Linked DNA regions of Homo sapiens. The protein of the gene in region 2 interacts with the protein of the main gene of each other region in a pairwise test. Each region holds a gene or a part of one and is shown on either strand. Other genes may lie near its edges. The genes, in order: WIPF1, ALAS1, ZNF175, KLHL35, MTSS2, SNRPB2 and C2orf42.

Region 1 (3,500 bases), on a different chromosome or scaffold from region 2:
CTGCCTCACTCACTCACTGCCCTTTTAATGGTCTGATAAACACTTTCAGGCAGGCGAATTAGTGCCACAGCTCACCTGTTAACTAGGCTGGAATCTGTTTTCAGTAAGAGACTGTCTCAGGCAAGGATTCTTTTAAAGTCTGTTTCTTAAATTGCTCTTTCTGGCATGACATCAATTAGTCACCCATAGGGCCACATGGGCATTGTGAGCAGGACTGGGTGCCTGTGTTAGGGGGTCCTCCATCAAGGGGCATCTCCAGCGGCACATTCAGAGGCCTTGGAGTCAGACGTCTCCTAGGACCAGCAGGAACGAAAGGGATCTGATTCAGGCCTGACTACTGCGAAAGATGCTGGAGCCAAATCAATGGTATGATCAGAGTTGGGAAAGGCTTACCAAGGAAGGGGGATAGCCTGGTCTGCCCGGTGGGCCCAAGAGATGGGCTGTGGGAACAGTGCATCCACGTGCTTGGTTGATGAAAAATCCCTCAAGACTATTTTGTCTGACTCCACGTTCACCGATTAACTTTCTGTCATTCTGTGATCCTAATATCTAGGAAAGGGTGGATATTCTGGTCAACTAACAGGAACCTCTTATGGGTATGGTTGTCATGAGTTCGGCTCTCGTAACAGAGATCAAATTGAACTTCTGTCCTGCACAGCTTAGGGGGCAGACTGTGGAATGGGGACCCTTTCAGGGGCTGCCACCCTGAAAGGCCTCCTTAATTATTTTACAATTCTCTGTTGCTGCTGTTTTAGTACTGTCTGTGCACTAACTGACTTGTATATTAACTTCTGGATGACAGCTCCAGGGAGGGCGTGTTAACTTCATGGTCCAGAGGGCTAGTGTGGGAGAAATGGCAACAGTCATGGCTGGGGCCAGAGCCAAGGCCAGATTGCAGAAATTAGCAGGCAAAAACAAGGTTCAGGGAGCAAGATGCTATTAAAGGGTCTGAGGTATTGAAAGAAGTGCTGCCTTTCCTTCCTGGCCACTTCAGATGGACAGTGGGGAGAGGGTCTACGGGTGAGGGCTCTCACTTTTTAGAGGGTGATGCAGAACTAAGTGCTCTTTCCTCTCTTCCTCTGCGAACTTGTTTGCATGGCTTGCTTTCCCTGGCCCCATCTCTCACTCCCCTCCAGATTAACTGTCCCTTTCCAATCTCAATGGTAACACAGATGAGGGAGGCTGCCATGTCCTCTCTCCTCCCTTCTAGCTGAACAACTGCTGGGCACGGTCTGGACTTCTCCAGGCTGGGGCCTCAAGGGAAGTGTGTGAGAAACCCCAGACTCCAATACTGCCACCTCACTCAGCCCCTGGATCAAAGACCAAGCTCGTGTGCCCCAACACTGGGCCCACCGGCCACACCAGGCCCACTTCTTGGCTGTCTTTCCACCAGCCTATGGACTCCATGGGGTCTTGCCAATACCTGGCACAAAGTAGGGTTCTTACTAAATATATATGCAGTGAAAGAACTGTGTATCACACAAACAAGCCGAGTGCTTGCCACTTGAAGGGCTCCCAGCATCACCCCACCGCACTGTGAGATCTGGGCAAAAGAATCAGCCCTATTTCAGAGGGGCTTGCTAGTGTTGCAGACTGGAACTTACTTTCCTGGCAGCCTCCAACTTCCCCAGAGAAGTAGAGCCCCAAGGCCCTGGGAGAGGAGGGCTTCCCTCCTCTCATGGACTTGACAGCCCACATCAGAGCCACAGCCAGATCTTACTGAAGGCCTTGGCCCTAGAGCACGGATCCTAACAGACCAGGCATTCCTGCCTGGATCCTCACACCCAGAGTCTGTGGATAGAATTCAAGGGTTCATGAACTTGTATGAAAAAAAAGTACATATTATTTCTACTAAGCACTAACTGAAATGTAGCATTTCCTTTGATTATGAATGCAGGCCACAAACCATAATATCTGATATTCTTTCACCCATAGTTTTCACGTGATATTTCACATCATATTACAACTACACACCAACAATTTTCAACATGCTGGCAACGTTTAGATCCATTGCTAGATCTTGTTGTTTAAACCATTAATAAAGAAGTACATATTTTAATAAATTAGTTTCCTTTGTAATTCTCTGTATTTTATTTTATGCATTTAAACGTAGACACAAAAGGGTCCCTTTGGGACTGGGAGTGGTGACTTATGCCTATAATCCCAACACTTTGGGTGGTCAAGGTGGGAGGACTGCTTGAGCCCAGGAGTTTAAGACTAGCTTGGGCTACAAAGTGAGCCCTTTATCTCTAAAAATAAAATAAAATAAAATAAAAACAAATTAAAATTAAATTTTTTAAAAAAAGGAGTCCTTTGGGCTTTACCAGTGGGTTTATAGAATGAAAAAGGGAGAACATGAGACCTTGGTCAGGCAAATTTGGTTCTGAATCCTTGCTCTGCCACCTGGCAGATTCAGATGGGAATTTGTTTTTCCCATCTGTTAAATGGGAAGTTGCTGAGCAGATTAAATGAAATGGTGTGTGCAAGGCTTTCAGCATGGCCTGGGGGAGCAAAGCTGTCAGTGGACAGGGCTTAGCTCTGTCCTTCAGAGGGTGAGGATGGGTCCTGCTGGTACAAGCTGCTGAGTGCCTGGCAGAGGAGGGATGGACCTGGAGGCTAGTCTGAGGGGCCACAGCTTTGCTCAGTGGCTGTGGGTGGATCTGCCTGGGTGGGAATGAGGCTGACTGATGACTGGGCCTCCCAGCATTTGGTTCTTCCCTTGGAGATGGGAGCATGGCAGGAAAGGCAGCTGATTCGGGTGCAGGAGAGACGCAAGAAGGGAAGGGACTCAGCAGCAGTTTCCCAGTGTGGTCAGTCATCTCCTGCATCAGAATCTGCTGTGCCTGTGTCCGGCTTCCCAGACTAGTTGGGCTCTCAGTAGTGTCGGATCACATGCCTACCCACTTGCTGGGCCTTGCCCTCCTACCCCACCCCAACCCAAGCAATGAACTTTTAAGAAGTCACACTTTTCAGAATTAATTTCTTTTTAAGAATAATTTCAATGTTAAGTAACTTTCATGATAGAAAAGCCAGACTTTCTAAAATCTTTACTTGGTGTGTTGACTTCTACAAACACAAAGAAAACTCAAGGGACAGAAAAGGCTTTTGTTTTCACATACAGTATTACGGTCTGAACTATGTCCCCTGCAAAAGTGATATGCTGAATTCCTGACCCTCAGGACCTCAGAAGGCAACTGTATTTGGAGATAGGGTCTTTAAAGAGGTGATTAAGCTAAAATGAGGCCATTGGGTGAGATCTTAATCCAATTTGACTGGTGTCCTCATACAAAGAGGAAGAGACATCAGGCATGTGCTCACACAGAGGAAAGTCTTCAAGTGAAGACGCAGTGAGAAGGTGGCAAACCAAGGAAAGAGGCTTCAGAACACACCAAACCTGCCCACATCTTGATCTTGGACTTCCAGCTTCCAGAGCTGGGAGAAAACAAATTTCTGTTATTTGATCTACCCAGGCTGTGGTATTTTATTATGGCAGTCCTAGC
Region 2 (3,500 bases):
GGTTGTGAAACACAGCTGCATTTTGGTGAAATACAACAAGTCTCAGCTTGGCAACTGAGGGAGATCCTGGGCAGGTTATTTGATGTCCTCATCTTGTAAGTAAATAAGACTGTATGTCGTGTTTGGCTCAGTGCCATGTGTAGACGGTAAGTATTAAAGGACAGAAGGCAGGCTACCAACAGCACCTGTAGTCACCACAACCAAAAGCACCTGCTCACGCAAGCAAGGGATATGGCTTTCAAGCCTCAACTCACCATACATTTTTTTGTTTTTCCTAGAAACTGAGTCTCTGTCTGTCATTCAGGCTGGAGTGCAATAGCGTGATCATAGCTCACTGAACCTTGAAGTCTTGGGCTTAAGCAATCTTCCTACCTTAGCCTCCTGAGTAGCTGGGACTATAGATGCAAGCCATCATGCCTGGCTAATTAAAAAAACTGTTTTGGTAGAGATAGTGTCTTGCTATGTTGCCAAGGCTGGCCTCAAACTCCTGGCCTCAAGTGATCTTCTCCCGCTTCAGCCTCCCAAAGTGCTGGGATTACAGGTATGAGCTACTGTGCCCAGCCTCACCATGCAATTTTATATTTAATCTAATGTACATTTGAATTATAAATTCTTTTCTACATCAGGCAAATAACAATGAGACTTACATTTTGGCAAGTTATCTTGAAGAAGATGAGACACTCTTTCTGGTCTTTGCTTTTGCATGATGTCCTGGAAGTTCTTCAGCAGTCCACTGGGATCCCCTCCATCGGTTTTCACACTAACCACACTGGGGCCTGCTGAGGTTTCAGCAACCTCTGGAACAAAAGTAACAAGAAACAAATGGGACCAACTTTCTATTCTGAGTTCACAATATCTTCCAAACATATTGTCAAAAATGGCTTATGGCCTAGTTCACAAAAAAGGCCAAGCATAACCAAAGTTAGTTATAACTGAGTGTACAAAGCATCTCTTCTATTTTAGTTACTGTAATGGCAGACTCTTGGTGTTGTTTTCAGAGCTACTGGCCAGCTTTAATGAACAATAAAGTCCAAAGCTTTCTTGCTGGTTGGCATGTCTTATTCACTCCACTACATCCCCACCCCAATCCTAATCTCAATTTTCTGTTTTTTTTTTTTTGAGACAGAGTCCCATTCTGTCACCCAGGCTGGAGAGCAGTGGCACGATCTCGACTCATTGCAACCTCTGCCTCCTGGGTTCAAGCGATCCTCCCTCCTCAACCTCCTGAGAAGATGGGACTATAGGCATGCGCCATCATGCCCAGCTAATCTTTGTATTTTTGGTAGGGATGGGGTTTCCCCATGTTGGCCTGGCTGGTCTTAAACTCCTGGCCTCAAGTGATCCACCTGCCTCGGCCTCCCAAAGTGCTGGGATTATAGGTGTGAGCCACTGGGCCTGGTCCTAATCTCAATTTTCTTCATAGAAAACAATTTTGGCCATATGCATAATTTCTGCTGGTTAGGCTTTTGGGGAGCCTTGAGTTCTCTGCAGATATAGCCACACCTATATATTGTGGAGTTAAGGTTGCAATTCAATGACCATCAGTAAGACACACGGCTTGGGAGCCCTAGGACCAGCACTTACTGCAGTAAAACCATTATTTTCTATCTTTATCCTAGCAGATGATGGGAAAGACCAAAGGGACAAAAGGCAGCTGGTGGCAGCTCAAGACTGCAGGTTATTTTCAGAAATTAAGTAGTAACTATAAAAGCTGGTCACATCCCACACACGCACCAGAAAGAAAGTCCCACTTTCGCAATACAGTCCCTTGACTGTCTATCTTGAAGACCTTCCTCTCTGGCCCTAAAAGAGGAAGGTGTTTCCATAAATACTGCCCTAATAATAGCTCATACACAAATCTGAGGGCCCAAAAGAACTAAAAGGACCCCTTCACTACCACTAATGGTTCACAACTCATCTCTTACCTTTCCTCACGGCATTCATTTCCTGCACATCCTCCTGAAGCTCAAGACTGGCTTTGCAGAAGACACTGCTGCCTCTCTGATTCATCTGTGCTGCCAGGAAAGGGCATTTGCTTGCAGTGCCCTGGCTTGTGGCAGGCAAGGGGTGTCCAGACGGAAGCTGTGTGCCATCTGGACTCTGCTGGGATCCATCAGGAGTCTGTTGGACCTTGGCCTTAGCAGTTTTGTCTTCTGAGGGAGGAAATGGAAAAAGTGAAGCATCAGATCTGGTTGCACAGTATGTAAGAAAACCACTTATTTCTTTCTTTTATTGCCTCAAAGATAAACTTAATACTTACTGTACCCCACCATCCAGACACAAGTGTTTTTTTTGTTTTGTTTTGTTTTTAAGATGGAGTCTTGCTCTGTACCCCAGGTTGGAGTACAGTGGCACAATCTTGGCTCACTACAACCTCCACCTCCTGGGTTCAAGTGATTCTCATGCCTCAGCCTCCCAAGTAGCTGGGGTTACAGGTGTGTGCCACCATGCCTGGCTAATTTGTGTATTTTTAGTAGAGATGGGGTTTCACCATGTTGTCCAGGCTGGTCTTGAACTCCTGACCTCAGGTTATCCACCTGCCTTGGCCTCCCAAAGTGCTGGGATTATAGGCGTGAACCACTGCACTCAGCCACAAGCTTATTTTTATTAGGTTCTGCTAATCTCTCTAGTTTTTCATCTGCTTCACAGGAAACAATGCGTCTATGAAGAGTTAACTGGCACATTCCAGTTGCCTCTTAAACCCACAGTATTTCTCGTCATAAATCCAAAAAAAGTACCATTTTCTAGTTTTAGACAACCCGGAATCCTTGAGTTGGATCATTTCCAGTAATTTCTACCCCAACTACACTCAGCTTATTTTATGAGAGGACACACTCTGTAAGGTAACGGGAAATATTCACACACATTTTTTTCTCTGCTAACATTTTCCTTTCCTTTTTTTTTGAAACAGGATCTCACTCTGTCAACCAGGCTAGAGTGCATGGTGCAATCATAGCTAACTGCAGCTTTGACCTCCAGGCTCAAGTGATCCTCTCACCTTAGCTCTCCAAGTAGCTTGGACTGCAGGTGTTCTACTGCGCCCAGCTAATTCTTTTTATTTTTTATTTTTTGTAGAGACGGAGTCTTGTTATGTGGCCCTAGCTTCTATCAAACTCCTAGGCTCAAGCAGTCCTCCCGCCTCAGCCTCCCAAAGTGCTGGAATTACAGGCATGAGCCACCACATCCTGTCTCTGCTGACATTTTCTAAACAGATTCTTGACAAAGAGGCTTGCTGTTGCTTAACATAAAAGCTATTGGTTTTCATCTAAACAACAGAAATTAGACTAAGACTTAGGTCTTTAGATTGCTAATAAAGTAAGAAAAAATAGGGGTATATCACATTCACATACCTCATCTACTTTCTCATCTAAATTCATCAAAGTCTGCTGACTAAACACCGTTGGCTGGTAATTATCCTTCTAGCTACAGTGACTTCCCTCTCCCCTTGAGCAAATTCATTCACCTTCTTTCTAGAAAAGTCTTTCTTCATCATTCTGGAA
Region 3 (3,500 bases), on a different chromosome or scaffold from region 2:
CTGAAGCAGGAGAATGGCGTGAACCCGGGAGGCGGAGCTTGCAGTGAGCCAAGATCGTGCCACTGCACTCCAGCCTGGGCGACAGAGTGAGACTCCATCTCAAAAAAAAAAAAAAAAAAGAGAGAGAAAGGAGTATTTTGTAAAAAAATTACTTTTCATGATGTTTTAATTTGTGAATGCTGTGTATTATCTATTCATAAAATTACATTTTAAAATATCTCAAATATCCTTAGGTAAGATAGTTCAATCATTAAACAAAAACATCATGTCATTAAAAGGAGTATTCATATCTAAAAGCTCTTAAAAATTTTTTAAGGCAGTAATGATTATCGGAGGGCTAGAAAATAAAGTTGAGAAATTCTTCCAGAAAGAGGGTCCAAAACCAAAGAAATAGAAAATGACAGAGCATAAAAACCCTTTTAAATGGAGACTAACAGCTTAAAAATAAAGAGTTTCAGGATTTGAGAGCAGAGAGACTATATGTGTGTGGTAAGGAAGTAGTATATGGGGTGTTTTAGGAAGAAAAAAATGATTTCCAACCTATGAACCCAGGCAAAGATCAACTTAGTGTGAGGGTAAATCAAGTCATTTTCCGTGACATCTTTCTATTAAATATGCAAATATATGATCTTTGCTTTTTGGCGTGACATTTTCATATCATTCATTTTCATATCATTTCACTTTCATGTCATGCTCATATATGTAAACCTCTCAGGTCTTTTGTTTTCGTTTTTGTTTTTTGAGACAGGATGTCACTCTGTCACCCAGGATGGAGTGCAGTGGTGCCATCACAGCTCACTGCAGCCTCAACCTCCTGGGTCAAGTGATTCTCCTATTCTTAAGTTTAGTCTCCGTTATCTGAACAGACATGTTCAGATAAGTTCTCACAGGATTTACTGCCGTGTACCGTCCCCAAGAACTCCTAGGGGATGCACTTTCACGAAATGAGAGTAACGGTAAACCGTGGAAGAGAAAGCCAAAGGATTCAAGAAAGGATTCAAGACACAAGGAACTGGACACTTGACAGAGAAAAAAAGAATTCCCAGGTGATGGTGAACACAGCACCATGAGAAGACAGCGTGAGGCGCCAGGAGAACAGCCAGGTCCAATCGCATCAAGACAAAAAAGCAATAGGAAAGGTTTCCTCAAGGAGATGGCATTGACAGCCCCAACCCTCAAGCAAACTGCCTGCCTTCAATCCCAGGCTGGCTGCTTGCTGACTATGTAAACTTGAGCCACTTATTTCATTCTGTGCCTCAGTCTTCTTGTCTGTAAAGGGGGGATAATGGCAGCAGTACCTCGCAAAGTTATGAGGATTAAAACTGTTCCTGAAGGCCGGGTGTGGTGGCTCATGCCTGTAATCCCAGCACTTTGGGAGGCCGAGGCTGGCGGATCACCTGAAGTCAGGAGTTTGAGACCAGCCTGCCCAACATGGTGAAACCCTGTTTCTACTAAAAATATAAAAATTAGCCAGGCGTGGTGGCAAGTGCCTGTAATCCCAGCTACTCAGGAGAGTGAGGCAGGAGAATGGCTTGAACCCAGGAGGAGAGGTTGCAGTGAGCCAAGATCGCGCCATTGCACTCCAGCCTGGGAGACAAGAGCGAAACTCTGTCTCAAAAAAAAAAAAAAACAAAAAAAAAAACTGTCCCTGAAATAGCGAGGGTTTGCAATTACCTAGTAACAAATTCAATTTATGAAGACAGTGTGTACACACTTGGAGAAAATGGTATAATACATTAACATGTATATAGGCAAGTAAATAATCCATAAAATTGTGTGCTCCAGGGAAAAACCGTAAGTTATGCAGGCAGAGAGTTATCAGGGTGTCTATACAGGCAGCTCTGAATATAGTTTACACAGTCATAATCACAAACAAGGAAGATTGACCTGATCAGAATCTGAACCAGTTCTAGAGAAGGATGGGCAAGGAAAGCAGGTGTTGGGGGTGAAAGTATGAGGAAGCGGGTAAAAGCAAACCTTTTAATGACATGTTTCTTAATTAATTAACGTGTTAATTAACAATCCAAGAGGCAGCAATATAAGCATGTCACTAAAAGATTAGGAGGTAAATGCCAAAATAATTAGCTAAAAATGTAAAATGTGATTGCCTGGGAGGAGCTGGAACTTTGGTAAAAATATAGCAAGTGACAGCCCTTTTAAAAGATTACAGGCTTCACAAAACCATCTGATCCTCTTTCCTATGTTCAAACAAAACTAAAACCTACTTTCAAAGGAAAAAGTAACAAAAAGTATTTACAAACATATGCAAAAAGGACCTTAGGTTATTACTGTGTAAGAACTCTCTTGGGACACTGAGGCAGGCGGATCACGAGGTCAGGAGATCAAGACCATCTTGGCTAACATGGTGAAACCTCATCTCTACTAAAAATACAAAAAAATTAGCCAGCAGTGCTGTCAGGCGCCTGTACTCCCAGCTATTCAGGAGGCTAAGGCAGGAGAACGGCGTTAACCCGGGAGGTGCAGCTTGCAGTGAGCAGAGATTGCGCCACTGCACTCCAGCCTGCGCTTCAGAGCGAGACTCCGTCTCAAAAAAAAAAAAAAAAAAAAAAAAACCTCTCTAAAAATCCGGAGGCTAAACCAAACCAAAATATAAATCAAAAGGTAAGAAAAAGTAACTCACTAAAGACAAGTAATTGACCAATAAAATTATGAAAAAAAAGCCTGTTTGTAAACAAAGTAATGCAAATTAAAACACTATACTATCTTTATTTCCATCACATTAGAAAAGATAAAAATAACAAAATAAAAATAGTACTGTCCAGAGCAGAGGGAAATACACACCACAAAGAGAAGATAATGTGCATGGTACTGGGATATACTCTGACATGAATTCAGACACTGATGGAAAATCTGAATTAGCGACAGCAGTATTGATTCAAATGATAAACTGGAAATCAGGTCAAGCAGAAAAAAAATTTCATTGTTAAAAAAGGAAAAAAGCTTATATTGAACATGTGTCCTAAAACGCTAAACTTGAAGATGTTCTGAACACGCAAGTTGACCAACATCAATGCAAATGAGAGAAACGTTTGTGCATCTGCACTGCTGTCACAAAGACTTAGACAATTTCATGTTTTAAACTTGTTTTGTTTTGAGACAGGGTCTCACTCTATTGCCCAGGCTGGAGTGTAGTGTCATGATTGCAGCTCACTGCAACCTTGACCGCCTCAAGCTCAGGTGATCCTCCCACGTCAACGTACTCAGTAGCTGGGACTACAGGTGCATGCCACCACACCTGGCTAATTTTTGTATTTTTGTAGAGTCTCGCCATGTTGCCCAGGCTGGTCTCCAACTCCTGGGCTCAAGTGATCCGCCCGCCTCGGCCTCCCAAAGTGCATGAGCCACTGTGCCCCACCTAAACTTGTATGTTTCAATTTTTCTTTTAAGAACGACTTTTAAATATTTGGGGTATTTACAATTTTGAAAATGATTTATATGTGCAATTTATTTTGTGTTAATGTTCCCTTCTTTTAATACTT
Region 4 (3,500 bases), on a different chromosome or scaffold from region 2:
AGAAACTAGGGCCCCCAGATCCAAAGGAAGGGTTAAGGGAAGGCAGCAGGAGGACTTCTTGAGCTGGTGTAAGACTCTGGACCTGTGACCCAGTGTGCTTTGAATAAGTGGTGGGAATGTCTGAGTTACGACCCTCGAGGGGAGAAGCCTGACACATTCAGGAAGAAGGGGCTGGTTTTCGCCGGGCACCTTGTGGTGGTGGTGGTGGTGTGCCAGGCTCTGTGCTCAGGAAAGCAAAGAGGGGGCCGCTGTACTAAAGGTAAGAGTACAAAGGGTACCTAAGGCAAGCATCTGGAATGTACTGGGGATCCAGGAAAAGCAGAGCCAGCTGCACTGGGAGCCAGGATAGGTAGAGGGTGACCCAATAACCCTCCCTCCCTTCTGCCTTCACCTGCACAATTTCATTTCTGATCTCATCCCTCCATGAGGTGTTGGGAATATTAGACCCAGTTTACATATAAGAAACTCAGATGAGACTTAGAGACCAACAATGACCTGCTGAAGACTACATGGCCTTTTGTCAGAGCCAGAACCAGAGCTTCTGGCTCCAGGCCCAGCATTGGTGCTGCTGGAGGACATGGCATGCCCTATGGGGCCAGGTACTGGGGATGCAGGATGTGGACTCTCCCTTCCCATGTCTGGCCACCCTGGGGATCTTGGCCAGGGATTCACCTCTCAATGGGAGCCTCCCTGGGGACAACCCTAACTGCACCCTTCAGCCTGAGCCTGTGACCAGAGCCACATCTGTTTGGTAGCCCCATCTTTGTTTATTCCTAGTGGCACCCAACAAAGGCCCCACATGTTGCTCAGAGCCATCAATGGCCTTGGATAAATTGTCCAGTGGTAATCTGTGGCCTGGATGGTCTGTGAGGCCTCCCTGGCTTATTCTCCTGCTCCTTACTCTTTGCAGGCACCCATAGTTCTTTACAACATTAAGGTCAATCCACCTAGCCCCAGACTCAAAGCCTCCCTGATCTGACTCCTGCCTCACCTGTGATACTCAACCTGCACTTCAGAGCCCTGAGTCCCCAGGGTTCCTTTCTGCATGTCCCTGCCCTTGTGCCTTTGCCCATACTGTTCCCTCCAACTTTCAAGGTCCAGCTGAAAAGTCATCTCTTCTATGAACCCTGGCTAGATTCCCTGAGTGGCATTCCAGATCATCTGGGGACTCTGAGAATTCTGATCACATTCTGCCTGGCAGTAAAAGTGAAGTCTCTCTCCTCTCCAGGACACTCCAGGGGAGCAAGGACTGTGTTTTATGCTTCTCTGAGTCTTTAGGGCTTGAGCCTTAGGGAGGACACAGTTTGTTGGTATCAAACAGATGTGTGTTCCTCCTAGCTTTGCCATTTTTGAGACAATGGGGGAAATTCTGAGCCTCTCCGAGCCTTTCTTATCTGTAAAACAGCATTGTAGGGGGATTTAATGATAACGAATGTAAGCTTCTTAGCATAATGTTCGGCACATAGTAGGCTAGTTGAAGTGATTATTAATACTAATACGAATTGACTTCCTTAGGAAGCCGGTTCAGAACAAAAAGTAATCATATGTATTGAAGTTAACATTCCTGAATAAAGGGCGGGTCACACGCGTAGTTAGCCCTGCTCACTTCAGCCAATAACTGTAGGTTATCAGAAAACATCCCGCCCCTCTCTCCCGATTGGAGGGAAAAGCAAAGGGGGTGGAGTGCGGAGGCTACTAGTCAATCCCGTGTGAGCTCCCGTTGCGGCTCCGCCCTCACCGGAGACGTAGACGTCATTGCGGAGAGCACAGGCGGCGAATTCTGAGCGAGTGTAGCCGGGCAGGCTGGGCAGTGGGGTCCACCGCTGGCTCTCTGGATGGTAGGCATCGGCGAAGGGCAGCTTCAGGAGACCTTTGCGGTCGCAACCGCCGATGACCACGATCACTTCAGCTAGGTCCATGAATCTGGCGTGCGGATAAGCCCAGTGCCTGTTGGGCCGCACCCAAGTTCGGCCCTCTCTTACCCTCTCGACCACACTGCACGGTCCCGCTGCCCTTTCATGCGTTTCTGCCATCACCCCCGCCCACCCGATCCCCCGGCCTCAATCCCGCTAGACCCTGCCACTTCCAACTTTGCCTGTGGGTACTGGGAAGAGAATCGCTAATGCTTACCGCATTCTGCTGACCTCTAAACTACAGAAAAAAAAATCTTTACAGAGCCCTTGCCCTCACCTAGAAAAATCACCTCGTTTAATCTGTATGGCAGTTCTATTAGTAGGGATTATTACCCCTTTCTCAGGGGAGGAAACTGAGGCTCACATACCATGGCGTGCCCAAAGCCATTAAGCGTCAGAGCTGGAATTCAAGCCCAGGTTTGTCTGTCGCTAACTCATCTTCAACACCCTTTTCTCACCTCCAACCGCTGATTCTGCTGCCTCCCTCCTCCTATGACATCCCCTCATCCCTAATTCCATTAAGCCGGATAACTCACCCTTTCAGTAAATCATTCTTCCCTCTCACTGACCCCACCATCTGACGCCACCAGAATTTCCATACCCTTTTAGCCATTGGTTTTCTAATTCCTTTGGCACATATTTGAGGATCTCTGTCCCAGGCCCTGTGCTTAGTGTTAGAGAGAGTGTCGTCTCTGGGGGCATGATTAAGGGCTACTCTGCCCAGAGCCTCCCAGTCTGGCTTTCCAAAGGTGGGGCAGGCTGCTTTCACTACTTCCCCATGCCCCTGCCTATTTCTATCCCTCATTAGACTGCGAGCTCCCAGAGGGCAAAGAGTGTTTTCAAATCACTTCCGCATCCCGGCACCCTGCACAGAACTTGCGTAGAGTAGTAAGTACTCGGAATTACGGTTGCATGGGCCAAAGAGAGTGTGCGCAGCTGTGGGGTCTCTGCATCTCCCTCACTGGCTTGTTAACTCTTCAAGGGCAGAATTATGGGCACCGAGCCTCTAAAATGTTGAACGAATGACTGAATATCATCAAGAGGCAGTACTAAAAGATGATGAAAGAATGAATGAGCGGTGGAAGCAGGCGGGAAGAACGGAGGGCGGGAAGCTAGGGGATGGCGGCCCTACCTCCGCGGCCGGGTCCGCAGCGCACCGGCCTCGCGGCCCAGGATGAAGCAGGCGCGAGCCTCGAGCAGCAGCGGGCGGCACTCGCCGCAGGCCTGCAGCAGCTCGTCCGCCTCCACCTTCTCCAGGAAGTAAGCGGGCGCCAGTAGCGGCAGGCGCACGTGCTCCAGCAGGCGTCGCAGCTGGCCGCGGCGGGCCGGCGCGTCGTGGCGCACCCAGCGCATGGCCGCTTCAAACACGGCCTCCTCGCGCGCCACGCCCAGCGCGGGGTCCGCCAGCAGCGCCACCACCTCGTCAGGCGCCAGCTCCAGGAAGTCGGCGTGGCGCGCCACCTCGGCGAAGGCCTGACGCAGGACGCGGCCGCAGCGCTCGGCCAGCGGGGCCAGCGAGAAGGCGGCGGCCACGCGGCGCAGCGCTAGGCTGTTGGCGGCGCGCAGGCGGCCCTCGAGAAAGCGCAC
Region 5 (3,500 bases), on a different chromosome or scaffold from region 2:
AAAAGGGCAAAACCAAAAGGCTTTTAGAGGAAAACATCTTTGTGACCTTGCAGTAGGCAAAAATCTCTCAAGCAGGACACAAATAGCACTAACAATTTAAAAATGGATAAACTGGACTATTTTAAAACTAAGAACTTCTGGTCATTAAAAGACCCCCATTAAGACAATAAAAAGGTACCCAATAGAAGGAGAGAAGATATCCGATGAGGAACTTTATCTGCAATACTAAAAAGTTCTATAAATTGGTAAGAAGAAGACAGATAATCCAGTAGAAAAATGGGCAAACGATTTAAAAAGGTCCTTCATGAAAGGGAATATTCTAACGGTCTTTAAAGGTATGAAAAGGTAGCTGGGTTCAATGGCACACATCTGTAGTCTCAGCTATTCAGGAGGCTGAGGTAGGAGGATTGCTTGAGCCCAAGAGTATGAGGCCAGCCTGGGCAACATAGCAAGACCCTATCTCTTATAAAAAAGTATGAAAGCTGGGCATGGTGGCTCATGCCTGTAATCCCAGCACTTTGGGAGGCCAAGGCGGGCGGATTACCTGAGGTCATGAGTTCAAGACCAGCCTGGCCAACATGGTGAAACCCCGTCTCTACTAAAAATACAAAAATTAGCCCAGGTGTGGTGGCACACGCCTGTAATCCCAGCTACTCGGGAGGCTGAGGCAGGAGAATTGCCTGAGCCCGGGAGGCGGAGGTTGCAGTGAGCTGAGATCATGCCACTGCACTCCAGCCTGGGCAACAGAGTGAGACTCTGTCTCATAAAAAAAAAAGTATGAAAAGGTGTTCAATCTCATTAGCATTAGAGAAATGCAAACAAAATATACAGGGAACTACTATTACTCTGCACCCACTAGAATGGCTAAAATGAAATCAATATAAAATGCCAAGCGCTGGTGAGGATGTGGAACAGCAATGAACTGTCATAATCTTGGCCAGGTGTGGTGGCTCATGCCTGTAATCCCAGTACTTTGGGAGGCTGAGGGGGGTGGACTGCCTGAGGTCAGGAGTTTGAGACCTGCCTGGCCAACATGGCAAAACCCCATCTCTACTAAAAATACAAAAATTAGCCAGGTGTGGTGGCATGCGCCTGTAATCCCAGCTACTCGGGAGTCTGAGGCAGGACAATCACTCGAATCCCAAGGATGGAGGTTGCAGTGAGCTGAAATTGCACCACTGCACTCCAGCCTGGGCAACAGAGTGAGACTCTGTCTCAAAAACAAAACAAAACGACACAAAACAAAACACTGTCCTAATCTTGCTAACAGGAGGGTAAATTGGTATGAGCACTTGGCTTACTGTCTGGTAGTACCTATCAAATCTGAAGATGTGCATATCCCATGACTTTGCAATTCTGCTCCTAGGAATGTGCCCCACAGAACTGCATACTAGAATGTTCACAGCAGCACTATTAGCAACATCATAGCCAAAAAACTGGAAACTATGCAAATGTCCATCAAAATGGTTAAATTACATATTCACACAATAGAATGCCATATAGCAATGAGCATGATCTATATTTCCACCTAAAACATGGCTGAATCTCATAAACATAACTGAGCAAAAAGAAGCCAGACATAAAGGATACATACTATATGATTCCATATATACATGTAGAAAGGATAAAAAGGGCAAAACTAGGCCATGCCTGAAATCCCAGTGATTTGGGAAGCTGAAGAGGAAGGATTGCTTGAAGGTAGGAGTTCGAGACCAGCCTAGGAAACATAGTGAGACCCCCATCTCTATAAAAGAAAAAATATAAAAATTAGCCAGGCATGATACTGCACACTCGTAGTCCCAGCTAATTGGGAGGCTGAGGCAGGAAGATTGCTTGAACCCAGGAGTTTGAGACTGCACTGAGCAAGGATTGTGCCACTGCACTCCAGCCTGGGTGACAGAGTGAGACCCTGTCTCAAAAAAAAAAAAAAAAAAAAAAAAAAGTCAAAAGTAGTCAGGATAGCAGTTACCCTTGGGTGTGTAGTGACTTAACAGAGCACTGCTGGCTTCAGGAGTGGTGGTTATCCTGCTTACGTTCTTGTTCTCGGTGTGTTTAGAATACCTCAATAAAAAAGTTCCTTGGGCAGGTGTGGCAGGTCATGCCTGTAATCCCAGCACTTGGGAGGCTGGCACAGGCGGATCACTTGAGATTAGGAGTGATCCAACATGGCAAAACCCCGCCTCTGCTAAAAATACAAAAATTAGCTGGGTGTGGTGGTGTGTGCCTGTAATCCCAGCTACTTAGGAGGCTGAGGCAGGGGAATGGCTTGAACCTGGGAGGCAGAGGTTGCAGTAGCCAAGATCGCACCATTGCACTCCAGCCTGGGCAATGGAGCGAGAGTCTGTGTCAAAAAAAAAAAAAAAGTTCCTGAAAGACTCAATGGTGATGGGTTATAACCCATAGAATAAAAGAAATATTTATGAGTCCATATTGATATAAATTAAAAATTGAATATATAAATAAATGGGGGAGAAGGGACAGATCTTTTTATGGTAGAATCTCAATTAATAAATGTAGGAGAAATGACAGAAATAGAAAGTCACCTATTTTAACAAGCAAGAATCATCAGTGGATGCCAAAATTAGAGAGCAAAAGTACAAGGAGAAACAGGACATTTTCATCCTCTCAAAAGTATCCCCTCACAGGATATTTTATTAATTAAAAAGGGAGAAATAATGACTCTCCAGTGGAGAAACTTGGCACACGCCACCTTAACTAAGGATCAAGGTGAACATCAGCAGTCACACGACGCAGTGACATTGTGCAGCATTTAGGATGCACTGACATGGGGACAACCGCACTTCTGTGGTACTCTTGCCAAAACTGTATGGCTTCTAATTCTGAATGAAAAGGCATCAGACAAAGCCAGATTTAGAGGCATCCTACAAAACATCTGACCGATATTCTTCAAAAGTATCAAAGTCATGAAAAACAAAGAGGGACAGGTGTGAGAAACTGTCACGAGCTGCAGAAACTGAGGTGACACCAACACGAAACACTATGTAGGGTCCTAGCCAGGGGCAGTGGCTCATGCCTGTAATCCCAGCACTTTGGGAGGCCGAAGTGGGCAGATCACCTGAGGTCAGGAATTCGAGACCAGCCTGACCAACACGGTGAAACCCCGTCTCTGCTAAACACAAAAAGTTAGCTGGGCATGGTGGCGCATGCCTGTAATCCCAGCTACTTGGGAGGCTGAGGCAGGAGAATCACTTGAACCTGGGAGGCAGAGGTTGCAGTGAGCCGAGATTGCCCCACTGCACTCCAGCCTGGGTGATAAGAGCAAAATTCAAAAAAAAAAAAAAAAAAAAAGGAAAAGAGAAAAACCCGGGAACATTATGTAGGGTCCTGAATTGGGTCATGGACCCCTGGACCAGCAGGACAGGAGAGAGAAAACTGGCAAAAATAGAAGACTGTACGTTACTTAGTATTATACCAGTGTTAATTTCTTGGTTTTAAAAATGTTTTTGGTGGTTACATAAAGTAAGATGTCAACACTGGGG
Region 6 (3,500 bases), on a different chromosome or scaffold from region 2:
GTTTAAAAGAAATTTTCCATCTAGTTTTCTGCCAGAAAAGTTGTTCTGTGGGGACTCTGCCAAACCAGCCCTAGTGTTCTGTGGGCCTATTCTATCTGTAAAACAGGATTAGTCTAGAATGGCGATTTTCTTTATTTTTCACCAGCTCCCTCAAATTGCATCCCTAGGTGCTCCCTCTGTGACTGTGGGGTGAGGGTAGGTTTGGAGAGGAAAGGGCATTTGGCCTCCAGTGGGCTCTGGAGCCACAGTTCTATGTCAAGCTGAGCAGTTTTGCTTTTGTTTGTTTTATATGTTGTTTGTTGAATACCTCTGGATTAGAATAGCTGATCTTGAGCCAGATCCTCAGGCACTGAGGAGATTTGAACAGTTCAGGATTCCAAAGCCCGCTGGTGGAGCCCACTCATTTGTTCCTTTAACACTTCAATGCAGTTTTCTCTATTCTTTGATTAAATGGAGAGAAGCCGTGGTACAGATATTTCAAAGTCCTGTGTTTCTCACATGAAAATATATGTTTTTTTAATCTAATAAACACACTTGAATCTAACTTTGTCTAAATTATGAATTATAGCCCACAGTTTACTTCCATTTGGCACTCAGTATATTCTGACAGATTTTCTTAGGGATATGTTTAAAATTAGCTTGTAGTGTATTTGCGTAATGAAATTTGAAATATTAATGACTAGTGTAAACATCCTTCAGCATGAGAAGTAACCTGTTTTCAAATAATTAAAACAGCGAATACAGTATGCAAAAACAGATTCGGATATAATATCAAAAATGCGTGGAACTTTTGCTGACAAAGAAAAGAAAAAAGAAAAGAAAAAAGCCAAAACTGTGGAACAGACTGCAACAACCACAAACAAAAAGCCTGGCCAGGTAAGAAAGACCAAGAAAGTTCCTGTTTGTATTGGTGTTAAAAACTTGATAGATGCTTGTCTTACAGGTAAGGAATGATCTTAGGCTTGTCTGTATATGTGCATAAATGTGTGTTTAAAAGGTGGTTTTAAGAAGCTAGAATGGTTGACTTATAAAATTCAGTATTAAGAAACAAAATATAAACCTTAACATGGAGATTTATATTAAGCAGTTTTATATTTGCATGGCATTTAATTCGATCATTGTTTAAAATATGTTAATACCTTTTGGTTTATTTCTCAAGTTTTGCTGCCTATAAATAATACTGTAGTTATTATCTTTAATCATGAGTACTTCACTCAAAGTATCTTTCTGGCTGGGCGCAGTGGCTCTTGCCTGTAATTCCAGCACTTTGGGAGGCCGAGGCAGGAGGATCACGAAGTCAGGAGATCGAGACCATCCTGGCTAACACGGTGAAACCCCGTCTCTACTAAAAATACAAAAAAAATTTAGCTGGGCTTGGTGGTGGGTGCCTGTAGTCCCAGCTACTCTGGGGGCTGAGGCAGGAGAATAGCATGAACCTGGGAGGTGGAGCTTGCAGTGAGCCGAGATTGTGCCACTGAACTCCAGCCTGGGCAACAGAGTGAGACTCTGTCTCAAAAAAAAAAAAAGAAAAAAAAAAACCCAAAAAACAAACAAAAAAAACAGTGTCTTTCTTTGAACAATTCAGTAATGCAAAATATAATTTGAAATACCAGATAAAAGTGAAATGAACTGCTTGGCGCCATGGTGGCTCATGCCTATAATCCCAGCACTTTGGGAGGCTGAGGTGGGTGGATCACCTGAGGTCAGGAGTTCAAGACCAGCCTGGCCAACATGGTGATACCCCGTCTCTACTAAAAATACAAAAAATTACCTGGCCGTGGTGGTGGATGCCTGTAATCCCAGCTACTCAGGAGGCTTGAAGCAGGAGAATTGGTTGAACCTGGGAGGCAGAGGTTGCATTGAGGCAAGATTATGCCATTGCACTCCAGCCTGGGTGACAAGAGCAAGACTCCATCTCAAAAAAAAAAAAAAAAAAAAGTGAAATTCACCAAAAAGTAATTACTTCTGGATTGAAAGTGATTAAAAGTCAGTTTTATTAAATGACTTATGTCCAGTTGTTTTTAAAAGTAAGACTAGGCCTTGGTTTTCTCTTATATATTTCTCCATAATTTTAAAGCTAAGAGGTTAAATTTTATAATATACTATTTAAAGTTTAGGGCTGGTCTTAACAAAAATAACCGACAAATTAAGAACATGAGTGTTTGAGTCAGTGTTAAGATATAAATTCTTAAAGTAAAATTAAATGGAGTAAGAAGGATATCTCTTGGAATTAATGTTATTTTTAATGCAGTAATTATAAATATAAATACCTGCTGCGTTTTTGGAGGGATTGGATATTTAAACTCTCCCTATTTATTTTGCTTAGGGAACTCCAAATTCAGCTAATACCCAAGGAAATTCAACACCAAATCCTCAGGTAATTTTTTTTCCATGTCGTGCTTACCTTAAAATAAGATTGTAAAAATTACAGCAGTGGTATAAAACAATTTCCATGTCTCCAAAAACAAAATGATTTCATCTACAAGACACAGTGCGTTAAATTGTCTGCCACTGCAATGTAAGAACTCAACTCCTGAAGAACATTTTAATTCTTTTTTAGAGAGAGAAAACGACACCTGACTTTATTTCTTGTTTTCCATAATGAATCAATGACAGAATCAAAATGACAGACTTTAAACTCTAAGGGCTGGGAGCAAACATTTTGGTTTCCTCTACAGTACCTAAAGCTTTACACAGTTGCATGGGTAAGGGTAACTGGCAGGGTCAGGGGCTCTCTTCCATTCCAGTTGGTTGAAACACTACAGTGTTACACTCTTTGGGCACATAGTTTTATAGTTAACCTTTGCTCTCACTTCCTGAACACAAATAAATTCCAGCCTTTTTTTTTTAAGCCTCCTTGTACAAATGTTTTAGAAACTCCGTATTAAATCTCCCCATGACATACCTCAAAGAGAAGGCCTCAGTAATGTGCTGATGGTTTCATACTTTTTTTTTTCCAGATGGCGGGGTCTGGCAAGATCCTTAAATCCATAGAATTCTCTGTACCACTGAGGTTTTTCTCCTCTTGTTTTAAGTTACTTGGGTTTTTTATCTCCTCAGCATTTATAGTCCAGTTCACAAATGCCAGCACTTAATCCTCTAAGCCTTGAGTTGTTCACTAATTATTTTTTATACTTGCTCTTTTCTCTTTTATGACAGTAGCAGGAAGACAGAGCTCTTTTCTTATATAGAAGACCCTTTCTTTAGTTCCCCATAACCTCTGGGTGGGATATCAAATGAGTAATATCTAATAAACTAAGTGTTTGTTACTGCTTGTTTGTATGTAACTAGATGCTGTGTATATCTCATTTATTTGCCAAAAATAAGTAAATTAAAAGTCCCTAAGCAGTGGTTCTCGGTGGTAATCTTTCTAGTTCCAATTTTTTTTTTTTTTTTTAGTATGCTGGGAAGTAGTAACAGTACAGAGGAATTGAGTATCTGAGTGATACTGAGTGTGGTAACCAGCTACGGAGGGGTGACATTGCTGGCCATCTCTAATT
Region 7 (3,635 bases), on a different chromosome or scaffold from region 2:
CGGGTCCCCTTCCACACTGTGGAAGCTTTGTTCTTTCGCTCTTTGCAATAAATCTTGCTACTGCTCTCACTCTTTGGGTCCATGCTGCTTTTATGAGCTGTAACACTCACCGCGAAGATCTGCAGCTTCACTCCTTAGCCCAGCGAGACCACGAGCCCACCGGGAGGAATGAACAACTCCAGACGCGCTGCCTTAAGAGCTGTAACACTCACCGCGAAGGTCTGCAGCTTCACTCCTGAGCCAGCAAGACCACGAACCCACCAGAAGGAAGAAACTCCGAACGCATCTGAACATCAGAAGGGGCAGACACCAGACGCGCCACCTTAACAGCTGTAACACTCACCGCGAGGGTCCGCGGCTTCATTCTTGAAGTCAGTGAGACCAAGAACCCACCAATTCCGGACACACCTGGATCTCTTTTTCCAGTATCACTATCAGTTAAATCCCGCCTCCCCCCCCCGAAATTTATAATTTTATAAACAGGCAACCATGAGATATAATTAGGAAAAACTAGTGACACTGCTTTATTTGAGAACAGAATAAAGAGCGTGGCTGGAACTCTGCCAAGATGGTCTTTAACATTCTGCCCTAACCAGGGTGTTAACTTTCCAACACTGTTGGTGTATGGCTGAGTGCTGCAGATTTCTCAGAGAATTAGCAAAAGGTTGAAATAAACGCTAAAGATGAGTCCGTAAGAAGGAAAATAAGCTGGTTTTCTTTCTGTTCCTTTTAAAACTCTAGCCAGAAATACTGCCCAATGCATAATGAAGACTGTACACAGCAGCATCAAAAAGGCTATTTACAAGAGATTTTCTTCAACAGAATCCACTTGAAAGCACTGAGAATTTGCATCTTAGCTAAGAGCAGTTTACCAAGGAACAGGGCCATCTAAGTGCCTAACTAGCATTTAAAGTTGTCAAGGGGTGGGGATGTGCAAATTAAGCAGCAAAAGATTATTATCTTGTTTTGCTTTAAGGGAAAGTAATAGTGGTCAGAGGGGCCAGTTCCAAGGGCTGGTCCAAGGGGGGCCGCTGGTCTTGGTACTCCGCCACATGCCCATTCCGGTGGTGGCCATACTCAAACTTGATCCGCAGCTCGCCAATCTTAGATTGGGGAAGGATATCTGGGATCCACTCGATGATGAAAGGTGTTGGCTCCTTTTGATCTGGGGAAGTGTTGCCTAAAGAGAAGAAAGGAGTATTAGTACAATTCCACCTAACTCTAATGGGTGTTCCTAATTGCAAAAAAAGTGTCCGGAATTGGAGCAGCCTGTTCAGCTTTGATAATCAGAAGGCCGAATGAGGTTTATAAATTCAGTGGTGATTGGGATATCAGATTTATTGATCATCATGAAGTTTTTGGGTTATTTTGTTTTTTTTGAGACGGAGTCTCGCTTTGGCACCCAGGCTGGAGTGCAGTGGCGCAATCTCAGTTCACTGCAACCTTTGCCTCCCGGGTTCAAGCGATTCTCCTTCCTCAGCCTCCTGAGTAGCTGGGATTACAGGCACGTGCCACCACACCTGGCTAATTTTTTGTATTTTTAGTAGAGATGGGGTTTCATCGTGTTAGCCAGGATGGCTCAATCTCTTGACCTTGTGATCCGCCCACCTCAGACTCCCAAGTGCTGGGATTACAGGCGTGAGCCACCACGCCCAGCCATCATGAAGTTAAAACATATATATTTAGGCCAGGCATGGTAGTTCATGCCTGTAATCCCAACAGTGTTGGTGGGCAAGGCGAGAGGATAGCTTGAGGCCAGGAGTTTAAGACCAGCCTATGCAACAAAGTGAGACCCTGTCTCTACAAAAAATTAAATTAGCCAGGTGTGGTGAAATGTGCCCATAGTCCCAACTACTTGGGAGACTGAGGTGGGAGGACTGCTTGAACCCAGTAGTTCAATGCCAGCCTGGGCAATACAGTGAGACTTTGTCTCAAAAAAACAAAGTAATACAAGAAAACAAGAAGGATAGGCCAGGGACAGTGGCTTACACCTGTAATTCCAGCACTGTGGGAGGCTGAGGTGGGCGGATCACTTGAGGTCAGGAGTTTGAGACCAGCCTGACCAACACGGCAAAACCGTCTCTACTAAAAATACAAAGATTATCCAGGTGTGGTAGCATGCTCCTGTAATCCCAGTTACTCGGGAGGCTAAGGCAGAAGAATCGCCTGAACCCAGGAGGTGGAGGCTTCAGTGAGCCAAGATCGCACCACTTCACTCCACCCTGGGCAACAGAGTGAGACTCCGCCTCAAAAAACACCCCCAAAAAATAAAAAAACAAGAAGGATGGATTAATTAATGTATATACATTTTTATATTATAAAAATTAACAATGTATATACATTTTTCTCTCAGCACTACTAAATCTTTGACTTCATAAGCTAATATTTTACTTTTTTGTTTGTTTGTTTGTTTTTTGAGATGGAGTATTGCTCTGTTGCCCAGGCTGGAGTGCAGTGTTGCAATCTCGGTTCACTGCAACCTCCACCTCCTGGGTTCAGGTGATTCTCCAGCCTTCCAAGTAGCTGGGACTACAGGCACGCACCACCATGTCCAGCTAATTTTTGTATTTTTAGTAGAGACAGGGTTTCAGCAGGTTGGCCAGGCTGGTCTCGAACTCCTGACCTCTGATGATCCTCCCACCTCAGCCTCCCAGAGTGTGGGGATTACAGGCGTGAGCCACTGCGCCTGGCTTATATTTTACTTTTAACTTCACTATGTTACTCTCCCTCCACTTTAGCCTAAATAGTCACCCCTTTTAAATTCCTTCCCTCTACTTCTTTTGGTCCTTTCTCACAAAGACTAAGACATCACTGATATGATGAGAAACAAAGCATCCATCCACCCACCCCAGACTAACAACTTCATTGGCAGGGTATTTTGGTCTGTTTGGTTTCTTTTAGTCATAGAATATAAATGTTAGGTATTATCTAGTTCATGTTTGTCACAGACATTCTAGCTTCCATTTCAAATGATATCTGGAGCTGCTGCCAACTTTTCACTTAAATATCAATGAAGACATAGAAAAAGATAAAAACTTACAACTGATGAACACTAAGACTACTGGCAGCTTCTGGGAGGAAATATAAAACAGGTGGAGATGGATGGAAAGAAACCTACCCAGACTTTGGCCATAGCATATCCCATCTTTCCTTCATAAAGGGAGGCTACATGGAAAAAGGCAGGAAAATACTTTGTCTCTCTCACTGTTTGTGCCCTGGCTAGTACTTGTACAGAGCAGCAAATGAGCAGCGCCACTTCGTTTCCTTTAGAACATCTCACACACACCCCTCCCCACTCATGTACCTGAATTCTTGATGACTGCAAAGGGGACTTGGAGGAGAGTAGGTGCATTTAAGGTGAATAGCAGGGCCAGGTGCAGTCGCTCACGTCTGTAAACCCAGCACTTTGGGAGGCCAAGCCGGGCAGATCATGAGGTCAGGAGTTCGAGACCAGCCTGATCAAGATGGTGAAACTCCGTCTCTACTAAAAATACAAAAATTAGCCAGGCGTGGTGGCACGCCCCTGTAATCCCAGCTACTCAGAAGGCTGAGATAAAAGAATTGCTTGAACCTGGGAGGCAGGGGTTGCAGTGAGCCAAGATCGCACCACTGCACTCCAGCCTAGGCAACAGAGC

What was found.
Region 1: the proteins of ALAS1 (region 2) and WIPF1 interact in binary tests that used the Homo sapiens proteins (3 or more experiments, as listed by UniProt).
Region 3: the proteins of ALAS1 (region 2) and ZNF175 interact in binary tests that used the Homo sapiens proteins (3 or more experiments, as listed by UniProt).
Region 4: the proteins of ALAS1 (region 2) and KLHL35 interact in binary tests that used the Homo sapiens proteins (3 or more experiments, as listed by UniProt).
Region 5: the proteins of ALAS1 (region 2) and MTSS2 interact in binary tests that used the Homo sapiens proteins (3 or more experiments, as listed by UniProt).
Region 6: the proteins of ALAS1 (region 2) and SNRPB2 interact in binary tests that used the Homo sapiens proteins (3 or more experiments, as listed by UniProt).
Region 7: the proteins of ALAS1 (region 2) and C2orf42 interact in binary tests that used the Homo sapiens proteins (3 or more experiments, as listed by UniProt).

Annotation. Positions count from the first base shown.
Region 1 is NC_000002.12:174,587,805-174,591,304, forward strand, and holds part of WIPF1 (WAS/WASL-interacting protein family member 1), read right to left. Parts: intron 1-3,500. UniProt on the Homo sapiens protein: Plays a role in the reorganization of the actin cytoskeleton. Contributes with NCK1 and GRB2 in the recruitment and activation of WASL.
Region 2 is NC_000003.12:52,201,160-52,204,659, reverse strand, and holds part of ALAS1 (5-aminolevulinate synthase, non-specific, mitochondrial isoform 1 precursor), read right to left. Parts: intron 2,154-3,500; coding exon 1,926-2,153; intron 798-1,925; coding exon 648-797; intron 1-647.
Region 3 is NC_000019.10:51,574,283-51,577,782, reverse strand, and holds part of ZNF175 (zinc finger protein 175), read right to left. Parts: intron 1-3,500.
Region 4 is NC_000011.10:75,426,704-75,430,203, forward strand, and holds part of KLHL35 (kelch-like protein 35), read right to left. Parts: coding exon 3,046-3,500; intron 1,924-3,045; coding exon 1,739-1,923; intron 1-1,738.
Region 5 is NC_000016.10:70,669,054-70,672,553, forward strand, and holds part of MTSS2 (protein MTSS 2), read right to left. Parts: intron 1-3,500. UniProt on the Homo sapiens protein: Involved in plasma membrane dynamics. Potentiated PDGF-mediated formation of membrane ruffles and lamellipodia in fibroblasts, acting via RAC1 activation. May function in actin bundling.
Region 6 is NC_000020.11:16,736,526-16,740,025, forward strand, and holds part of SNRPB2 (U2 small nuclear ribonucleoprotein B''), read left to right. Parts: intron 1-735; coding exon 736-876; intron 877-2,326; coding exon 2,327-2,377; intron 2,378-3,500. UniProt on the Homo sapiens protein: Involved in pre-mRNA splicing as component of the spliceosome. Associated with sn-RNP U2, where it contributes to the binding of stem loop IV of U2 snRNA.
Region 7 is NC_000002.12:70,149,385-70,153,019, forward strand, and holds the end of C2orf42 (uncharacterized protein C2orf42), read right to left. Parts: intron 3,485-3,635; exon of another isoform or gene 3,305-3,484; intron 1,181-3,304; coding exon 972-1,180; 3' UTR 501-971; downstream 1-500.